Linked DNA regions of Homo sapiens. The protein of the gene in region 3 purifies or fractionates together with the protein of the main gene of each other region. This does not show direct contact. Each region holds a gene or a part of one and is shown on either strand. Other genes may lie near its edges.

Region 1 (7,031 bases), about 99 Mb from region 3:
TGCCCTGACATGAGCCCCTCATATTTCAGTCATGGGGGAAAGTGCCTTACCTGGGTTCCTCTCCAACACACACAAACTTCACCTCTAGGTGTCGAGACTCGGTCCAAGAATAGTTACTGTCCAAGTGGATGGAACAGAACCTGGTGACATTCCCGTGAAATCTAGAAGATCTAACTGGGATGTAGCAGACTTCCCAAAAAGCTGTCCCCAGCACAGGCTTAGATAACCAGCACTCCAGGAAAACTCATATATATATATACACACACATTTATATATACATTTGTGTGTGTGTGTGTGTGTGCACGCACATGTGCGTGTGCATGGAGCTTTGGAAAAAAGAGTAGCTGGGCACTATATGATTGTACTGGGTTGGAGAGTGACCCACACCGCACCCCCCAACCCCAACCGCATCCCAGAAATTAACATCCCCAGAATCTCTGAATGTGACCATATTTAGAAATAGGGTCTTGGCAGATGTAACTAGTTAGGAAGAGGTAATACTGGATTAGGGTGGCATCTAATTCCATGACTGATGTCCTGGTAAGAAACGGAAACACACACACAGAAGGTCACGTGACGGCAGAGGCAGAGCCTGAAGTGATGCACCTCTAATCCAAGGAATGCCAAGGATGGCCAGCAGCCACCAGAGGCTGGAGAGAGGCCTGGGACAGACACTCAGAGCCCCAAAAGACACCAGCCAGGCCCACAGAGCTATCTGTTAAAAGCAAATATTTGAGGGTTTCTGTTGACAGCAGCCACAGGAAACAAAAGGCGGTGGGAAATGGCTATTGAGCACTTGATGTGAGGCAAGTCCAAACTGAGCAGCGCTCTGAGTACAGACACACCAGATTTCAGATGCAAACTCACACATGCTTCATTAGTAAGTTTTATACTGAAAAAAAAACAAGTTTTATACCGATTACATGTTGGAAAAATTGTATTTGGATATACTGCGTTAAGTAAAATATATAATTAAATTAAATTCTACCTATTTTCCTTTTATCATTTTAAAATATGGCTCCTAGAAAATTCTAAGTTACACACATGCCCCAAATATATACCAGACAGCACTATGACAGAACATGTCCTGCCTTCTAAATGGGCTATGTCCTAAATGTCATCACTACAAACTCTGACTTAGGAAATGAAAACACTGACCCCATGGGAAGGGGTCTAGAGATGGAGACCTCACAAGAGCCAGCAGCTCTGCTGCCAGGGCCCTCAGGAAGCAGCAGCTCGCTTCTCTCCTCAGATGGCCACTGCTGCAGCAGCTAGATGCACACATGAAGCGCCATAGAACAAGGAGCCAGCAAGAATGTCCTTCATCCCTACACACAGCTGAGCGACTCAAATTTTTAACACAGAAAGTTAACTGATTCAGATATGCACACCAATCATCTAGATTTTACAACTGCAGCTAGATGAGGCTGGGTGAATAGGACTCATCCACTCCCCACCGTGGGGAGAGGAGAAACAGCGGGTGTCCCAGGTGTCATGGTACTCAGACTAGGACTTGAGCAACAGAAAGAGATGGCTTGAGGAGAAAACGGAGAAATGCCACCTAGGTGGTAAGAAAGCTCACAAGGTTTCAAAAGACACAGATACCATGAGACTTTCACATCTATCGTTCATTCCAAAGCCACGTTATTTGGAGTGCAGTCAGCACACCTGTGTTTGAAGCCCCTGGGATGCTTTTTATAAAATGCAGGTTCCCAGGCTCCATCGCAGGCCAACAACTCCAACCCCAGGAGACGCTGATGTACACACTAAAGCTATGCCTGTGTAAATGGTAAAGCTTTGTATGTGGGTTTCAATCCACTCCAGGTATCTATCAACTGCTGAGCATGGTATAAACTAGGCACTGTATCATGAGCAGGATGGAAAGATGTCCCAGTGCTCATACGCTGGTCAGGGAGACATGTAAACAAGCAGTGACAAAACTGTGACATCTGGTCAGAAAGGCCCAACCTTCAGGCGCCTGTGTGTGAGCTGGGCAAGAAAGGGTATAAGAGAGAACAGGGCCCAGTCAGGAGACTGTGAGTTAGTTTGCACTTTATCCTGGGGCGGATCTGAGAGCTGCTGAAGGGTTCTAAGTTGTGCAGATCAATGACTACTCTCTGGTGGACAGACTGGAGGTGAGCAGGAGGCAAGGGGACCACTTAGAGGCAAAGGCTGTAAGAGAAAAACCTGAGAAAAACAGATAGCTGCTTACATTCCACTTGTATGCAAAAATTTAAAAAAAAAGAGTTGAAGCAACAGTTACAAATCAGGAGATTTCAGCTCAAAATGCAGGGTTCTGGCTCTTTTCAAAGGGGCCTATGTGACAACCCTGGGCCCATATTCCAGAAGCTGCCCTGTGGTCAGTGCACGGTGCTTCAATCTGTTCACCTTCAATGCAAACGCTGCAAGGGGAGGCACCTGTGGGGTGTGGAGGCACCCGAAACCCTAACAAAGGCACCAGGGTGGGAATCCAGGTCTTCAGAAGCCAAACCCTAGGAACCCAGTAAATGGTCAGACAGGCAGTAGCCATGAGGAAGGGAGACTTGAGGGTTCCACTGGTTCCCAGCTTGGTCCCCTAGAAACAATGGGTGCCATTAACCAAGAGAAGGGTATAGGAAAGACAGTCTGATGCCCGGGGTGGGGGAAGGGGTGGGCAATCCCACTTGCTGGAGAGTGCCGTGGTTACTATTATATTAAAACGAGGATGGATCTGTGCATGCCTGGCCAGTGGAAATCGCACCCCCGCCTCAGTTCTTGGGCTTGCTCTCCATCTTCCTGCTTACCAGAATGATTTTGGTCTCATCTAGTTCGGCCTGCACTTTAGTCATGGGATCAGCTTCTCGTGGGTTCTAGGAAAGAGTGAAAAATAATAAAGTCAGGACTGGAGTGGCTACCTGCAAACAAAACCTAAAACTGAGGAAGCTGGACAAACTTTCACAGGTTAAAAACCACAGCCTGGGCCGGGCACAGTGGCTCACGCCTGTAATCCCAGCATTTTGGGAGGATGAGGCGGGTGGATCACCAGAGATCAAGAGTTCGAGACCAGCCTGACCAACATGGTGAAACCGTCTCTACTAAAAATACAAAAATTAGCCAGGCGTGGTGGCACATGCCTGTAATCCCAGCTACTCGGGAGGCTGAGGCAGGAGAATCGCTTGAACCCAGGAGGTGCAGGTTGAGTGAGCCGAGATTGCGCCACTGCACTCCAGCCTGGGAAACAGAGTGAGACTCCAACTCAAAAAACAAAAAACAAAAAAAAAAACCCACAGCCTGTTTAACATGTAACAGAAACCCAAAGCCTGCCTAGAGCTTGGGTTCCCCGGTCTGAACGTAGATTCTCTGTTTTCCAAACAGTAAGGCTTGAGAGAGGACACCAGCATCAGAAGCTGTCAGAAGTAATTAGACCAGAACTATCAGGGCAGTTGGCTTTTTCAGTTTCACATGGATTCTGGGCCACATGGTGTCTGCTGAAGCTTCCTTTAACCCTACCTGGTATCTACTGAGGTGACCATCCAGGGCTGGGTAATGGATTGTAGCAGGGGATCCTACTGGCCAGTCTATCCTGTCGACTTGCTTGGAGAATTCATCTAGTACCTGCAAGACAAAGGAGACTCAACAAGCCTCCCACTGTGCACTCACCAGTGGTCTCAATGACAGGGCTTCACCCCTGAGCACCTCACCCTGAATGAGGCTCCTTGGCCTTCACAGCCCAGGAAGGAGGAATGAGGGGGACATATAATGGCAACAGAGAAAATCTAGGCTAAAGTTCTTTCCAAATTTTTATCATTAAAACATATCCTAAATATTCTGAGAATCAAAAGTATGCCCAGCCCGAGATGAACCTCACTTGGGGAGTAATAAAGGTATTTGAATTTTAAACTACAGATTTCCAGAAAAAAGGGGCACTGGTCCTCTAATTTTCCAAAGCAATTTTTTAAAAAAGAGAATTAGGTCCCCTAGATTTAAGAAACCACCAGATTCCATGTGTTTGGAGGTATTTTGGTGCTCTGGGGTATAGGATGAAGCCTCTGACTTCAAAGAGTTAATATTAGTAATTAGCACCGTACGCAAAAAAATTTAAAGAATGCTTAGGTGCTAAGCTCTGTGGTGCAACTGACTGACATCAAGGTAGAGGGATGCAGCAACTGCAGGAGGCAATGGGGAGAGTGAAGGCATTCAAGAGGGAGACTCCTTGAGCAGAAGCACAGGGGGCGAGAACACAAGGCACAGCTGTCTCCGAGGGTCCCATCCCAGAGAATAGATGCTATGACTCAGTGGCCTAGACCCAGCTCACATGAGGGACAGCACCGGGGAGGAAACCCATACAGGGATGCCAAATTGTCTCTTGGGTTGCAGGGAAGGGGGCTGAAAAATGTGTTGACTTTGGACACATCATTTCATCCCTTATGTCTCAGGGACTGCCATCAACCCCTGTCCCAGTCCATAAATGTGCCCATTCATCATCCAAGTCCAGGAGAGGCAAATAAAAAACTCACCTTCTCCAGCAAGGTAAAGGCCACCCGGGATGGGTATTCATTGTCAGCAATGACCACACCTGCAAGACTATCATTCCGGACGTAGACGTGGCACAGATAGTCTAAGGAGACAAGAGATCAGACACATGGATGCTGACATGAGGGCTTCAGACTTCTTTTAATCCCCCCAAATCAAAGCATCCAATGTTAGGCCAAATGAAGCCACTCGGAAGCTCAATAGCTCTGGGCAAGTCTTGTGGAGAGGCTTAGCAGCACAGCCCAATGGGCCACACACAGGAGCTTGGCCCAACGCCTGCTTTAGGACCAGTAAATACCCAGAGGCCCAGTATGCAAAGCCAGGGCTTAAAGAAACAGCCAGTGGTGCAGAAAACACACCCTTGACAACATGGCCCCAGGAGCATTTCCAAGTGTATTCCTTAAGCTCGGGTCAGGCCAAGCTATATCTTAGGGATCTGGAGCCCTTGGGGCTCTGTGCTGCTCCCAAACTTAGGGAACCCTGGACAAGCCAAGAGGCCTCTGCTTTCTTAAAAAATCTTTTCAGAGCAGCCAAAAGACAGGAAATTACCCCCCAGGGCCTCAGTCTTCCATATTATAGCAACCTGCTGGGTTTGCTCCACTCTGGTGGGTGACTGGGAGTAGGGGGGTTAGTCTAGAAAAAGATTAGCTACTGCCAGCTAAGGCCTCCAGAGCACTGTGCTAAAATCCTCATATGATTGAAAGGTACAGTTGTACAGGTCTTCCGCAAAATATTCACAATCCACAGGATTGTTCATTTCCATCACTTTGAAAGGATTCAGAGTTGATACAGCTAACCATATCCCCAAGGAAAGAGAAATGTAAGGATTACAGCTTACAAATAAGAACCTTCTTGTCCTTAAGGATCTGACCCAGAAGATTCCAATGCTAAACAACAGAAAAACAAATAAAAGAGGAGGGAATGATGGTGAGCCCCTGAAATCAGAAAAGAGCAGAGATAAATGAGAACAAGAATGAGGAGGAGGAAGAGGACAGGGGGTTGTCACCAATGCTCTCCAGATTTTGTATACCATCCCCAATTAAGATTCAAACATGGGGTCAAAGTGCATACCCTCCAAAGAAACTGAGAACCTGGTCAGTGGAGGAATTGTCTTTAAGTAATAAACGTGGGAAGGGCAGGCACAGTTTGAAGAACAGAGCAAGAACACTGAAATATTTGTGATGCGATTTCACTTCTATGATGTTAATAGCACAGAGATCCCACATAAAGTGTATATAGTCAATCCTGCCTGTATCATAACTGACATTTATATCATCAATTCAGTAACTCTATGTCACGTGACTTGAGGTTAGCATAAGTGTGAGATGATCTTTGTCCCTACCTGATGAAACTCATGTAACTCTTTCCTGATCTGTCTGTATAACATACACATCTAAATAAATGCCTAAACCTGAATTATCAGAAAGAAAAAATAGTTTTTTCAGATTCCTGATCAAAAAATCTACGATGCACAGAATACATATAGTACCTCAACAGTGCTAGCTGGAAATCCTTTTTTGAGGGGTCTGCAACTCTGAAGAGGATAGGGAAGAATACGATATGAAGGCTGCTTACTGCTCCAAAAGAGTCAGACCCTAATCTTAAATGAGTCTAAGTTTGAGGGCAATTTTATCTGGGAAGCTCAGACTTCAACAGTGGGCACAGAATTCTGCATAAATAGGAAAAGGAAGAGGTGGGAAAGAGAGAACAAGCTAGAGGAGGAGTAGGGTCCCAGTAGAAAGGAGAAAGCTGGGTGCTATGTGAGGTGAGGCATGGCAGCCAGGCCAGCACACGCACAGAAGTTGGAGGGTCTTCTTACCTTGTTCTTTGACAGAAGCTCTAGTGCCTTTCGATGAGCGCTCCACAATCAGTTGACTCGTGAAGGTCATGAATTCCTGAACGCTAAGAAACACAAAATGTATTTATTGCCTACTTCTTATCACCTTGTCCCCAACACAGTGGAAAGTGACCTCTGGGCTTATACATTAAGTAGACATTGCTTCTTGGTTTCATTCCTTTCCCTCCCATCCCTAGTAACAAACACTCTATAAATGAGCACAAATACTGATAATTATGAATTATCATCACCATGAAAGCTCCATCTGTTTGCTACCTGGCTCACCAAAACAGGTGAATTTTCTGGGGGGTTTTTCCACAGGATACAGTCAATTTTACATTTTGGTGAATGCATAATTTGGAATGCAATGGAAAAACAAGAGGCAGGTCCTGCTCTCAAGGTCCCAATAACTTCCAAGAAGCAGGACATTTATAAGAACTGCACTAGAAGAATAGTGTGCAAAAACTGTCAGGCAGAAATGCACAACCATTTATGGCTGTGTCCACATGACAGACCCTCGCAATGCCACATACACCCATAGTGAGTGCTGGCTCAGGTCTGCTGGGGCTCGTCCACAGAACGAGCGCAAGACACTCTGGATGGAACAAAAGGAAAACTGCTCATCCAAGACAAAGAAGTGGGAAATGGCTCATACAAAGGGTGAAAGGGAGAAGGTCCATCA
Region 2 (7,031 bases), on a different chromosome or scaffold from region 3:
AAGTAAAACCAAAATAGTTTTAAGCAGCCTTGGAAGGAAAAAAAAAAAGGTTAATCAACTACCTTTAGAATCTCTAGCCCAATCTCAAGGTATACCCCTATCAGATATGCCATGTCTTCATGCTTGCCTTTTTTCTCAACTTAACAAAATTAATTATCATGAAAGAATCAAAACTTACTCACTTAAGACTTCCAAACTAATGAAAGTACAATTTTATTTCTTGCAAATCAAATGAACTTACTCTAAACTGAAATTCCAGGCATTAGCAAAAAAAGGAAATAACAGATGATCACAGTGTAGCTTAAAGCCATATCCTAGAAGGGCCAACCACAACCATTTGTTAATGTGGCAAAGCAAAGAACAGTGTCTACTCTTCCCTTCTTCACATGGCCACCTGGTTAAATTTCCCAGCTTCTTTTGTAGCTAAGTACAGCAATGCGCAGAAACAGAAATAATACGACTTCCTGGTTGTGTCCTTCAAGGGCAGAAATAAACATTCCCCTTGGCTAGAATGTGAATATGATGTTAGAAGCTGATAGTCAAGCCACAATACTAACCCTGGACTGTACCTGAAACCTCTCCATGTGGAGAAAAAAACCAAAAAAACAAAAAATTATCCTCTTTATCTGAGAACAGCCCAAACTCTATACTACCTGATACAACCTTTCTGGCAAGCTATAGCAAACGTCACATTTTACTAACACATTCCAAATTCCTAGGTTGTCAGTTAAATATTTCTTTAAAGAAGTAGTGGCCAGGCGCGGTGGCTCATGCCTGTATTTTGGGAGGCTGAAGTGGGCATATCACTTGAGGCCAGGAGTTCGAGACCAGCCTGGGCAACACGATGAAACCCCATCTTTACTAAAAATACAAAAATTAGCCAGGCATGGTGGTGCACGACCTATATATTCCCAGCTACTTGGGAGGCTGAAGCATGAGAATTGCTTGAACCAGGGAGGCAGAGGCTGCAGTAAGCTGAGACTGCACTATTGCACTCCAGCCTGGGCAACAGGGTGAGAGACTGTCTCAAAAATAAATAAATAAATAAAACAAACAAACAAACAAAAAAATGAAGTAGAACTTTGGTTGAAAGCTTTGTCTTTTAACTAAGGAATCAAAACAGTAAACTGCAGTTCCAGTTTCCTGTGCTGGGTCTAAGGAAGGGATGGCAGGCACCACGTCCAGCTTCCTGACAGGCACCTACGGCAAGAAGCCCCTGACGAGAAACAGGCCAAGGAGATGTATGAGGAAGACAAGGATTTCAAGCAGAAACAAGAAGAGGAGCAGAAAAAACTTGAGGAGCTAAAAGCAAAGGCCACAGGGAAGGGTTCCCTGGATAGGTGGAATTAAGAAATCCGGCAAAAGTCTATGGCCATTCTATCCTGAATGCAATTGCTCGTCTGATCTCAGAAGCTAAGCGGGGTTGGGCCTGGTTAGTACTTAGAAGGGAGAAATCTGGAAAACAAGAACAAAAACCAAAAAACAAACCACTGTGTCCGAGGCAATGATGACCCTTGATCCCATTCCTATTTAAATATCTGCATTTCCTACTATAAAATCTTCTGCTTCCACTCTAGGAAGCAAAGGATGAAATGTCTTGGAGCCTGTTGCACATTTAAGAATAAACTTTTTTTCTCTTTTTCTCTTTTTTTTTGGCACAGAGTCGCGCTGCCACCCACCGCAACCTCTGCCTCCAAGGTTCACGCAATCTTTGTGCCTCAGCCCCCTGAGTAGCTGGGATTATAGGCATGCACCACCACACTGGCTAATTTTTGTATTTTAGTAGATATGGGGTTTTGCCATGTTGGTCAGGCTGGTCTCGAACTCCTGATCTCGAGGGATCCACCCGCCTCAGCCTCCCAAAGCGCTGGGATTACAGGCATGAGCCACCACACCCGGCCCTAAGAATAAACTTCTGGAAAAAAGAAAATAGCAGTTCCAAGATTTTTTTGGACACCATCTTTCTTATCTGATGTTCAAGAAATTGCTGGCTCTATTTACATGAAAGCAGCATAACATGGTACAAACATCAAAGTATCTAATAATAACAGTCTACTACTTTCTGGAAGGGGTGAGATAAGCATGATGATAAAGGTGAGCAGGAGAGGAAAATGTCTATTGCATGTGATCACCAGGATAGCTCAAAGCACTTTTTTAGATTTTCCCCTTTACAGGTATAAAGTGACAATATTTATAAAGATTCCTTTTTTGAGGCATGCTTGATGGCATGCAACAGTAATCCCAACTACTTGGCTGAGGTAGGAGGCTCACTTGAGCCCAGGAGTTCAAGACCAGCCTGGACAACACAGCGAGAACCTGTCTCCAAAAAATTCCTTTCTTAAATGAATACATATGTCTTTTTTTTTTTTTTTTTTTTACTTCTGGCTTACTTTCATGATTATTATACAGGGATATAGACATGGATGATGCAAGACAAGGGCAAAAAGATCTGGCTTGATTGAATGTAGTCTGTGTCTCCCCTTCCTCCCAAAAACTTAAGCTGTAGAGATTGGTATGCTTTCAGTTAATATTTAAATGCCTCCCCTCCAAAAAGTTTTCTATCTTTGACAAATGTCACTGGTTTTCCTCTCTGTTGCCAAGATCTGCTATTCATTTTATGTTTTACTATTTTAGAATCTATTTTTTTAATCCCATCAAAGCTACCAACCATTGTGGTTCTATGTATATTTCTCTTCCTTCTCTACTGTCTATCTATCTCAGTGAGACAGATAGCATGATAAGCAGCAGGAGAAATCCTTGCTGCATATAAGTGCCCTTACTGGGATGCTTTTTAAACCACCACTGCCGGCCGGGCTTGGTGGCTCACGCCTGTAATTCCAGCACTTTGGGAGGCCGAGGTGGGTGGATCACGAGGTCAGGAGATGGAGACCATCCTGGCTAACAAGGTGAAACACCATCTCTACTGAAAACACAAAAAAAATTAGCCAGGCGTGGTGGCAGGCACCTGTAGTCCCAGCTACTCGGGAGGCTGAGGGAGGAGAATGGCATGAACCCAGGAGGTGGAACTTGCAGTGAGCTGAGATTGCACCACCTCACTCCAGCCTGGGTGACAGAGTGAGATTCCGTCTCAAAGAAAAAAAAAAAAACCGCCACTGCCCAAACCCCACCCCACCCCAGTAAAAGAGAACCTGAATGGTTTCAAAGGCTCCTCAGGTGATATGAATTTTCTGTGAGGGCTCTGGGCAACCATGGTAAAACCTTGTCTGAGACAAGCCTGGGCAACATGGAGAAACCCTGTCTCTACAAATACAAAAAAATTAGCCAGGCATAGTGGCGTGCTCCTGTAGCCCCAATTACTCAGGAGGCGAAGGTTGGGAGGGTTGCCTGAGCCCAGGAGGTCGAGGCTACAATGAGCCCAGATTGCACCACCGTGCACTCTAGCTTGGGCAACAGAGTGAGACCCTGTCTCAAACAAAAGTACGGGCTCTGAAGGTCCGAAAATCTAGGTTCAAATCCCAGTTTTACCATTTAATAGCTGTGACCCTGGGGAAGTTAACTTTCTTAAACTTCATTTATTTGTAAGTGTCCACTATGTGCCAAGCAGTGTTGGATATTGAGTAAGGGTGATTATGACAGTCCCTGTCCTCTAAGAGCTTATAATGGGTGACACAGGAACTTACAGGAAGCCAAAGACAAGCAAACAAATTTATTCCTAACAAAGCTACCAGGGCACACAGGAAGGAAATCTGGTCCAGAGTCAAGGGATCAGCAAAATCTTTAAAAAGGGGACATTAAGGCTGAGTCCTGCAGGATAAGTGATAGTAACCAGATGAGGCTCTTAAAGGAAGCCTGTTCTTAACAGAGGAGGAAGTGTGTGCAAAAGGCCTGGATACAAAAGAACTCAGCTTAATTGGGAGATACCAGTTCAGGACTGGAGTTAAAATGAGGAAAGGACAAGAGATGAGGATCAGTTGATCAGCTTCTACAGGAATATTATCTACTCTGCTTGGTTACCTCAAGATTAAATTTTATAGATAGAGCACAGTGCTTTGCACATAAAAGATACTCAAATGATACATCCCTTAACAGAACAGAATCCCTAAAAACTCAATATAACAGGACTACTTTAAAATAGCCACTGTCTTCCTCCCCCACTCTCCATTCTGGGGATGGATTAGATAAGGACAGAATCTTCACTGCTAATAGCATGCTTCTCCTTGATGGAGATCCTGGAAAAGTCAGCCGTAGCTGGCAGCAACATGTGTAACAGACAACATCTCATTGGCCAATTGATAGAGCTACATAGATTCTGCAGATGTCCTCTGGCATCAAAATGCCCTGATTTTTTTTTCTTTGCTTTGCTTTTTTTAGAGGCAGGGTCTCACTGTGTCACCCAGGTTAGAGTGCGGTGGTATGATCGTGGCTCACTGCAGTGTTGACCTCCTCCTGGGCTCAAGAAATCCTCCCACTTCAGCCTCCCACATAGCTGGGACTACAGGCACACGCCACCATGCCTGGCTAATTTTTAAATTTTTGTAGGGACAGGGTCTCACTGCGTTGCCCAGGCTGTGTGGCAACGCCTGAGCTCAAGTAGTCCTCCCACCTTGGCCTCCCAAGTGCTGGGATTACATACAGGAGCCACCGTGCCCGACCCCCCGATTCTTTAAAATACTATTAATATTTTAGCCCTTCAATAATACATGTTTATAATTCCCAAAAATAAGTCTAAGATTTTAAAATTTATTTCTCAGCTTCCAATCTGGATATTAATGACTCCTAATTTAAGATTAGATGACTGACCCAGAGGAAAAAACATATACAAGTTTAGAACGGCAAGCACTGTCAAGATAAGATGCTACATTTATTTAGCACCTTGTCAAAATTTTTATCAGCCAACGTTATTATTCAGCTTTATGCTTTAATAAAGCTCAACTTTAAAAGATTATTTGGAGCCTGGCATGGTGGCTCACACCTATAATCCTAGCAGTTTTGGAGGCTGAGGTGGGAGTATCACTTGAGCCCAGGAGTTCAAGAGCAGCCTGGGCAACATAGTGAGATCTCGTCTCTACAAATAATTTAAAAATTAGCTGGGTGTGGTGGTATGCGCCTGTGGTCCCAGCTAGTAGAGAGGCTGAGGTTGGGAGGATCACTTGAGCCTGGGAGGTCAAGGCTTCAGTGAGCTGTGACTGCACCACTGCACTCTAGGCTGAGAGACAGAGGGAGACCCTGTCTCGAAAAAATAAATACATACACAAAGGTTACTTGGTTAAGTACCAAATAAGATAGCTTATTTTTATACCATGCTTGCTTAATGAAGGTATACTTCCATGACAAGTAGGTTTCTTGACAAGAAAATCTAACAATTTTAGTAACTCAACTAAACATTAACACACAGAAAATGTAGTTGATCACTGACGTTTAATTTAGAAAATGTCTATCTTTAGAAAGAGCTAAATTTTGCGTGCTTATTATGTGCCAGGCACTGTGCTAGAAAGATTCATGTGCCTTATCCCATTTAGTCCTAAGAGGTAGGTACTATTATTAGCACACCTATTTCACAGAGGGGAAGTGGAGCTTTGATTTTGTATCTTACCCAGCTAGGAAATGTTAAATCTATTCTTTGAACTGAGGACTATGTCAGAGCTCAAGAAAGATTCTAATTCCATTCCTGTTCAAAACAGTGGTCTCCAGGTAAAATAGATCTTGATTAACTTAAAAATCTCCAGAATATTAAAGTTATATTACAGCACAAACTTCATAAACAGTGACTGAATTTTGCTTTCAGCCTTCTCTTGAATATGCCTAAATAATTCCAGACCTTGAACTTTCCTAAACCTTTAATCATTTATGGTGCTCTCTGCTGTACCTACCCATTAGAACAATTTTTAAAAACATAACACTGTGTAATTATTTTCAAAAGCCCAGAGATACTAATCAAGTGATCCTAATAGTCTTAAACACTATCCTCAAACCAAAAGATAAATGGAGATTGGGAAACTTGCATTCTAAGTGCCACCATCCATATAAAATTGCCCTGTGAATTAGAGTAATTTCAATCAGATCCTGTAAAACTGTAAATTTTTCTCAAGACCAGAATGAGACAGTAACTGTAAGATAGTTTAAAAGCCCAAATTCTGGAACATAAAATGGTTTTCCACATAGCAAATTCAACAGCAAAAGGTAGTCAGTAGGGGTTCGGGAGAGCAGCAACATTTAGAAAATAATAAATAAAATTGCAGGGCTGGGTGAGGTGGCTCATGCCTGTAATTCCAACACTTTGGGAGACTGAGAGGGGGAGGGCCACTTGAGGCCAGGAGTTCAAGACCATCATGGGCAACATAGCAAGTCTCATCTGACAAAAAATAAAAAATTAGCCAGGTATAGTAGTACCCTGTAGTCCAGCTACTTGGGAGGCTGAGGCGGGGGGAATACTTGAGTCCTCGAGTTTGAGAATGCAGTGAGCCACAATCATGCCACTGTGTTCCAGCCTGGGCTACAGAACGAGACTCTTATCTCAAGAAGAAAAAAATTACAAAATATTAAACTATTCATGTCATAGCCACTCTGCCTTAATGCAAGACTATAATTACTCTAAAAAATCATATGCTGCTCAAATAAGGCCTAATTTCCTTACTATATGGTGTCCTTAGTTTTAAGTTAACACATTACATACTAAAAGAAATCCAGGCTGGGCATGGTGGCTCACGCCTGTAATCTCAGCACTTTGGGAGGCCAAGGTAGGCAGATCATGAGGTCAAGGGACTGAGACCATCCTGGTCAACATGGTGAAACCCCGTCTCCACTAAAAATACAAAAATTAGCTGGGCGTGGTGGCGCGTGCCTGTAGTCCCAGCTACTTGGGCGGCTGAGGCAGGAGAATCGCTTGAACTCGGAAGGCAGAGGTTGCAGTGAGCCAAGATCGCGCCACTGCACTCCAGCCTGGCGACAGAGCAAGGCTCTGTCTCAAAAAGAATAAAAATAAAAATAAAAAAAGAAAGAAATCCAAAGTCATTTCATGCATTAAAAACTCAATTAGGTTTTCACATAGGCACTGGCATTTATGACTGTTA
Region 3 (5,842 bases):
TATCTTCATGCAGTAAAGGGCAATCAGAACTCACAGCCCAGGCCACTGCCTGCCACAACTGCCTGTCCCTTGGGGCTCTCGTAGTAACCATGACATTTGTCCTCAAGAAGGCTGTCGCTTCACTATCCACATCTCAGTTCAGCCATAGAGGCAAATATTTGCTCTTAACTTTCTGAAAGGCAGTGGAGATGCGATGGCACAGTTAATCAACACTTTTAATCGAAGCCTTCCAGATAACAAAGGGGTACAAACGTAAGGAGTAGCACGACATCATATTAACATATTCTGAACTTCTGGGCAATACTGGCTCTCTGGGATCCATGGGACTGCATCTTTATAACATTCCAAAGAAGGGAAGCATGCTCAGAGAGTTCCCAGATTTCCTTGTCTCCTCCGCTTCCCAGAGGAGGAGCCCCATAACAGTACCCAGTATTCATCTACCTATGAAAACACCTCCATGTCAGTGGGCCACAGCTCTGCCATCCTCACCTTTCTTTTCCGGGGGTCTAGATAAGGAAACCATGCCATCTAGGCCACCCAGAAGCCCCTTGCCAACAACAGGAGCTGCGAGAACACGCTTCGAAGCTTGAGGTTGCTGAAGATGAGGATGAAGGGATGGACAGATATGCACAGGTAGACTGCAATTTGCCATGGCCAGTAAAAGTCGTTCTGCATGGAGATAAATTTTGCGGCATCAATGATCAGGGACAGAAAGGACAGAGCATAAAGAATGAGGAAGGAGATGAGGGACTTCAGAGCTCTGGTGTGAGCCTGGGTGCTGGGGTCCTGCAGGCTGTGCCCGTTGTGCTGCATTCTCTGAGTATGCCTCCTCAGAGAATTAATTAACAGCATAATTGAGACCAGAAAAACAGAAAAAGGAATTGACCAGATGACCAGTTTCAGGGATGGGAAATAGTATGTTTCTATCCTTGTATTCCACTTGTAGGTCATGTTCCCAGAAAATTTTCTAATTAAAAATTCTTGATATACAGGGTAGTTCACCCAAAAAAACAGCAGGGTTATGATGAAGGAGATCAGGACAGAGCCCAACAGGAGCCAGGGCACCCACCCTGGGAACCTCCACTTCAGCCACAGGAAGGTGGAGTGTGTGATGTTAGCAATCTTCACACAGAACAGGACACTGAGCCAGCTGCAAAACCAGAAGGTGGCTGAGTTCAGGAAGTGCCAGTGTAGATGGAAGAACTGTCGGCCGAGACCCCCAGAGTACTCGACCTTCTGGGCAGAGTAGTAGAAGTTGTGCACCGTCCCAACCAACTGCAGGCAGAAGCGGGAGGCACCCAAGCTAATGAGGATCATATCCAAGGGCAGCAACCTGCCATATCGCAGCCACTCCCTGCCCAGCACCAGCACAATGAAGCCATTCGCTGCAATCCCCAGAAGACTCAGCAGGCTAAAGAGCAACACGAAGAAGGCCGTCAGTGCTGCTTGCATTCTGACCCCTCCTGCAGTCCCCACTTGAGTGCCTTGGTCCCTGGCCTCCTCCCTGCCCCTAGCCACAGTCCTGTTTTTAATCTTTCCTAGGAGTGCTAAAGAGTGGTCAGGCTCTGCATCTGAACCAGAGCTCACTTAGAGAGGAGGATGCTCAGGCTAAAGAGGAGAGGTGTGCTCTTGGCTCAGACAGGATGCAAATTTATCCTAGTGTCAGTTACCACTAGGCCTGCAAATTACCCTAATTTGCCTTGTCCAGTTTTCCTGCATGCTGCCATGGTTAGTATCAATGTCTATGATTTTTCTGGGTCTCTGTGACTGAGTTCCATCCTCAGGCCGTATGAACACTCCTCTTCCCATCAGAACATTCTTAAGACTTTAAATATAGAGACAAGTATAGGAGATACACAGGAAAAATAGTGACATCAAAGAATTCTGTCTCAGTACTTCCCTGTTACACATCCATGCTTACCTTACTGCCTTTGCCCACAAATCGCTTCAAAATCAAACACTTCGTCTACCTCTCCATCCAGATCTCTACTTAGATCCTCCATGAATCCTGAGATGTAAATGATAATGGTGTAAACGGGTTTTGTATTTCCAGTGAGAGAATTCATTATCATGTGGTTGAGGGGCCTTCCGAAGCAGGACTGAGAGCCCCTGTTTCTTCCTGGGTGTTGGTGGGAGACTGCTCTCTGGTCCTAGAGGCCTCTCACAGTCTCTGCCAGGTAAGCTGTTTCAGCATGGCCACTCACGTCAAGTCAGCAGTCTCTAAAGGGAGTCTGCTAACAAGATGGGGTCTTAAATAACATAACACAATCATTGGAGTGACAGCCTATCACCTTTGCCATAGTCTATTGGCTAGAAGCAAGTCACTGTCACCAACAACACTCAAAAGAAGGAGGTTACACAAAGGCCCAACACCAGGGTTGAGGGACAGGCAGGGCCACTTTACAGTCTGTCTGCCACCCTGAGATACCCGAGGCATATGTGAGTCCTGTCTAACACCAACATCAAAAAGAAGTCCCTATGAGACCATGTTGAAAGTAAAAATATTTTCTTTTAAAATATATCTATCACCTCACATAATTCCTGTTTTCAATTTCTTCATGTGTAGTGAGAACACTTAAGATCTACCCTCTCATGAAAGTTCAAGTATACAGTGCAGTATTGTTTACTATACTCATACTACCATACCTTAGGTTTCCAAAGCATGTTCACTTAGCATAACTGAAACTTCATACCCCTTGACCAATATCTCCCCATTTCCCCTTCCAGAACCCTGGCAACCACCAATCTACTCTCTACTTCTGTGGGTTTGTTTTTTCAGATTCCACATGTAAGTGAGATCGTACAATATATGTATTTCTGTCTCTGGAGCATTTCACATAGCATAATGTCCTCCAGTTCCATCTACGTTGTTGCAAATGGCAGAATCGCCTTTTCTAAGACTGAATCATATTCCATTGTGTATGCACACCACATTTTCTTTGTTCATTCATCTGTTAATGGGCTTTTAGATTGTTTCCATGTCTTGGCTATTGTGAATAATTTTCAATGAACATGGGAGTGCAGATATCTCTTCAAAATACTAGTTTCATTTCCTTTGCATATACACCTAAAAGTGGAATTACTGGATAAGGTAGGTCTGTTTTTAATTTTCTGAGAAATCTTTATAGTGTTTTCCATAATTTATATTCCTGTCAACAGACTGAAAGAGCTGCTTTTCTCTGTATTTTTGCCAACACTTGTTATCCTTCATCTTTTTGGTAACAGCCATTCTAACACATGTAAGATGATACCTCATTGTGGTTTTGATTTGCATTTCTCAGGTGATTTGTGATATTAAACATATTTTCATGAACGATTTTTGTCTTCTTTTGAGAGATGTTATTCAGGTCCTTTGCCCATTTTAAAATCAGGTTATTTATGTTTTTTGTTTATTTCTGCACTACAGTTGAATAAGTTCCTTGTATTTTTATTATTTGTATTTATTTATTTCAGACGGGGTCTCACTCTGCCACCCAGGCTGGAGCGCAGTGGCACCATTACAGCTCACTGGAGCCTCAAGGTAGGAAGGATGATCCAATCTTCCCCACCTCAGCCTTCCAGGTATCTGGGACTAAAGGCATGCACTGCCACACCCGGTTAATTTTTTTTATTTTTTGTACAGACAGAGTCTCACTATGTTGCTCAGGCTAGTCTCAAACTACTGGGCTCATGCAATCTTTCTGCCTTGGCCTCCCAAAATGTCAAGATTACAGGCGTGAGCCAGGGCACCCAGCCAAAGTTCCTTATATATTTTGGAAATTAACACCTATTAGATATGTTGTTTACAAATATTTTCTCCCAATTTCCATTCTGCTGGTTGTTTTCTTGGCTTTGCAGCTTTTTATTTTGATGCAATCCCATTTGTCTATGTTTATTTAGCTGAATTTTTGCCTGTGCTTTAGGTGTAGTTTTCTATAAGTCATTACCCAAACCAGTGTCAAGAAGCTCTTTTCCTATGTGTCCTTCTAAGAGTTTTATGATTTCAGGTCTTGCATTTAAATATTTAATCTATTTTGATTTAACTTTGCATGTAGTGTAAGAAGAGGATGAAATTTCATTCTTCTGCATGTGGATACCCAGTTTTCCCAACCTCATTTATTGAGGAGACTATCTTTTCCCCATTGTGTATTCTTGGCACTTTGTCAAAAATCAATTGACCACAGAAGTGTAGTTTTATACACGGGCTTTCAATCCTACTCCATTGGTCAATGTGTCTGTTTTTTTGCCAGAACCATGCTGTTTTGATTGCTATCATTTTGTAATATATTTTGAAATACAGTAGTGTGATACATACAGCTGTGTTCTTTTTGGTCAAGATGGCTTTAGTTATTCAGGGTCCTTTGTGATTCCACATGAATTTTAGGATTTTCTTTCTATTTCTGTGAAGAGTGACATTGGAATTTTTATAGAAGTTACATGAAATCTGTAGATTTGGATAATTTGGATATTTTGACAATATTTATTTTTCCATTCCATGAACATAAGATATCTTTCCATTTATTTGTGTCCTCTTCAATTTCTTTCATCAGTGTTTTATGTTTTATGCTCTTTTCCTACTTCCTTGAGGTGTAAAATTAGGTTGTTTATTTGAGATCTTTCTTCTTTTAATGTATTTATCACTACAAATTTCCCTCTAGTACTGCATTCCTATAAGTGCTGGTATGTAGTGTTTTTGTTTTCATTTGTCTTGAAATCCTTCTCAAATTACCTTTTGATTCTTTGATTCAATGATTATTCAAAATGTGTTTAGTTTCCATGTATTTCTGAATGTTTTTGTTGTCTTACTGTTAATGACTTCTAGTTTAATTTTTGTGGTCAGACCAGATAGTTGGAATAATTTCAATCTCCTTAAATGTGTTAAGGCTTATTTTGTGACCTAGGACGGGATCTATCCTGGAGAATGTTGCATGTGCCCTTGAGAAGAATGGGTGTTCTGCTGCTATTGGGTGAAAAGGTCCACTTAGTCTGCAGTGTTGTTCGGGTAAACTGCTTATTCATTTTTGTCTGAATGTTCTATTCATTATGTTAAGTCAGTTATTGAAGTCTCCTACTATTATTATATTGCTGTCAATATTGTCTGAACTGTCAATATTTGTTTTGTATATTTATATATTCTCAAGTTGGGCACATATATTTTTATCATTGTCTTATCTTCCTGTTGAGTTGGCCCTTTTATTATTATGTAATGACTTATTTGTCTCTAGAGACAGTTTTTTAGTTAAATTCTATTTTGTTGGGTATAACTACTCCTGATTTCTTTTGTTTACTATTTGCATGAAAATCTTTTCTATCCCTTCAGTTTCATCTTACGTGTGTCTTAAAGTGATCTCTTACAGACAGCATATCTCTGGATCTTGTTGTTTTTAATTTATTTGCCACTCTTTGCCTTTCGATTGGGTAGTTTAATCCATTTTTATTTAAAGTAATTATTGGTAGCTGAGGACCCTTTTGCAATAATATCAAATATAGCAATAATTGTTATTTGTTTTGCAGTTGTTTTGTTCCTCTCTTCCTCTTTTGCTGTCTTGCTTTGTCATTTGATGATTTTTGTAGTGATTTCCTTTAACTCTTCAATTTTTATGTTCCCTTTATATTTGTGTATCTTTTATAGGTTTTTTTCTTTGTGGGTAACTCGAGGTTTACATAAAATACCTTGTAGATATAATTGTCTATTTTATGTTAACAACTTAACTTCAATTGCATATTAAAATTCTACATTTTTACTTTCCCCCACCCACACTTTGTGCTTTTGTAGTCAGTTTGCTTCTTTTTATATTGTGTATCCATTATCAAATTTTTATCTTTTAACTATTATATTAGAATTAAAAGTAATTTCTATACC

What was found. Proteins that work in one complex are often made in the same cells at the same time.
Region 1: the proteins of TAS2R41 (region 3) and YKT6 purify together in Homo sapiens (affinity purification with mass spectrometry; 3 studies listed by BioGRID and IntAct, with this or other methods). This does not show direct contact.
Region 2: the proteins of TAS2R41 (region 3) and SNX3 purify together in Homo sapiens (affinity purification with mass spectrometry; 3 studies listed by BioGRID and IntAct, with this or other methods). This does not show direct contact.

The regions. Positions count from the first base shown.
Region 1 is NC_000007.14:44,203,951-44,210,981, reverse strand, and holds part of YKT6 (synaptobrevin homolog YKT6), read right to left. Parts: intron 6,415-7,031; coding exon 6,332-6,414; intron 4,598-6,331; coding exon 4,497-4,597; intron 3,595-4,496; coding exon 3,490-3,594; intron 2,850-3,489; coding exon 2,784-2,849; intron 1-2,783. UniProt on the Homo sapiens protein: Vesicular soluble NSF attachment protein receptor (v-SNARE) mediating vesicle docking and fusion to a specific acceptor cellular compartment. Functions in endoplasmic reticulum to Golgi transport; as part of a SNARE complex composed of GOSR1, GOSR2 and STX5.
Region 2 is NC_000006.12:108,251,037-108,258,067, forward strand, and holds part of SNX3 (sorting nexin-3), read right to left. Parts: intron 1-7,031. UniProt on the Homo sapiens protein: Phosphoinositide-binding protein required for multivesicular body formation. Specifically binds phosphatidylinositol 3-phosphate (PtdIns(P3)).
Region 3 is NC_000007.14:143,473,483-143,479,324, reverse strand, and holds TAS2R41 (taste receptor type 2 member 41), read right to left. Parts: upstream 1,453-5,842; coding exon 529-1,452; downstream 1-528.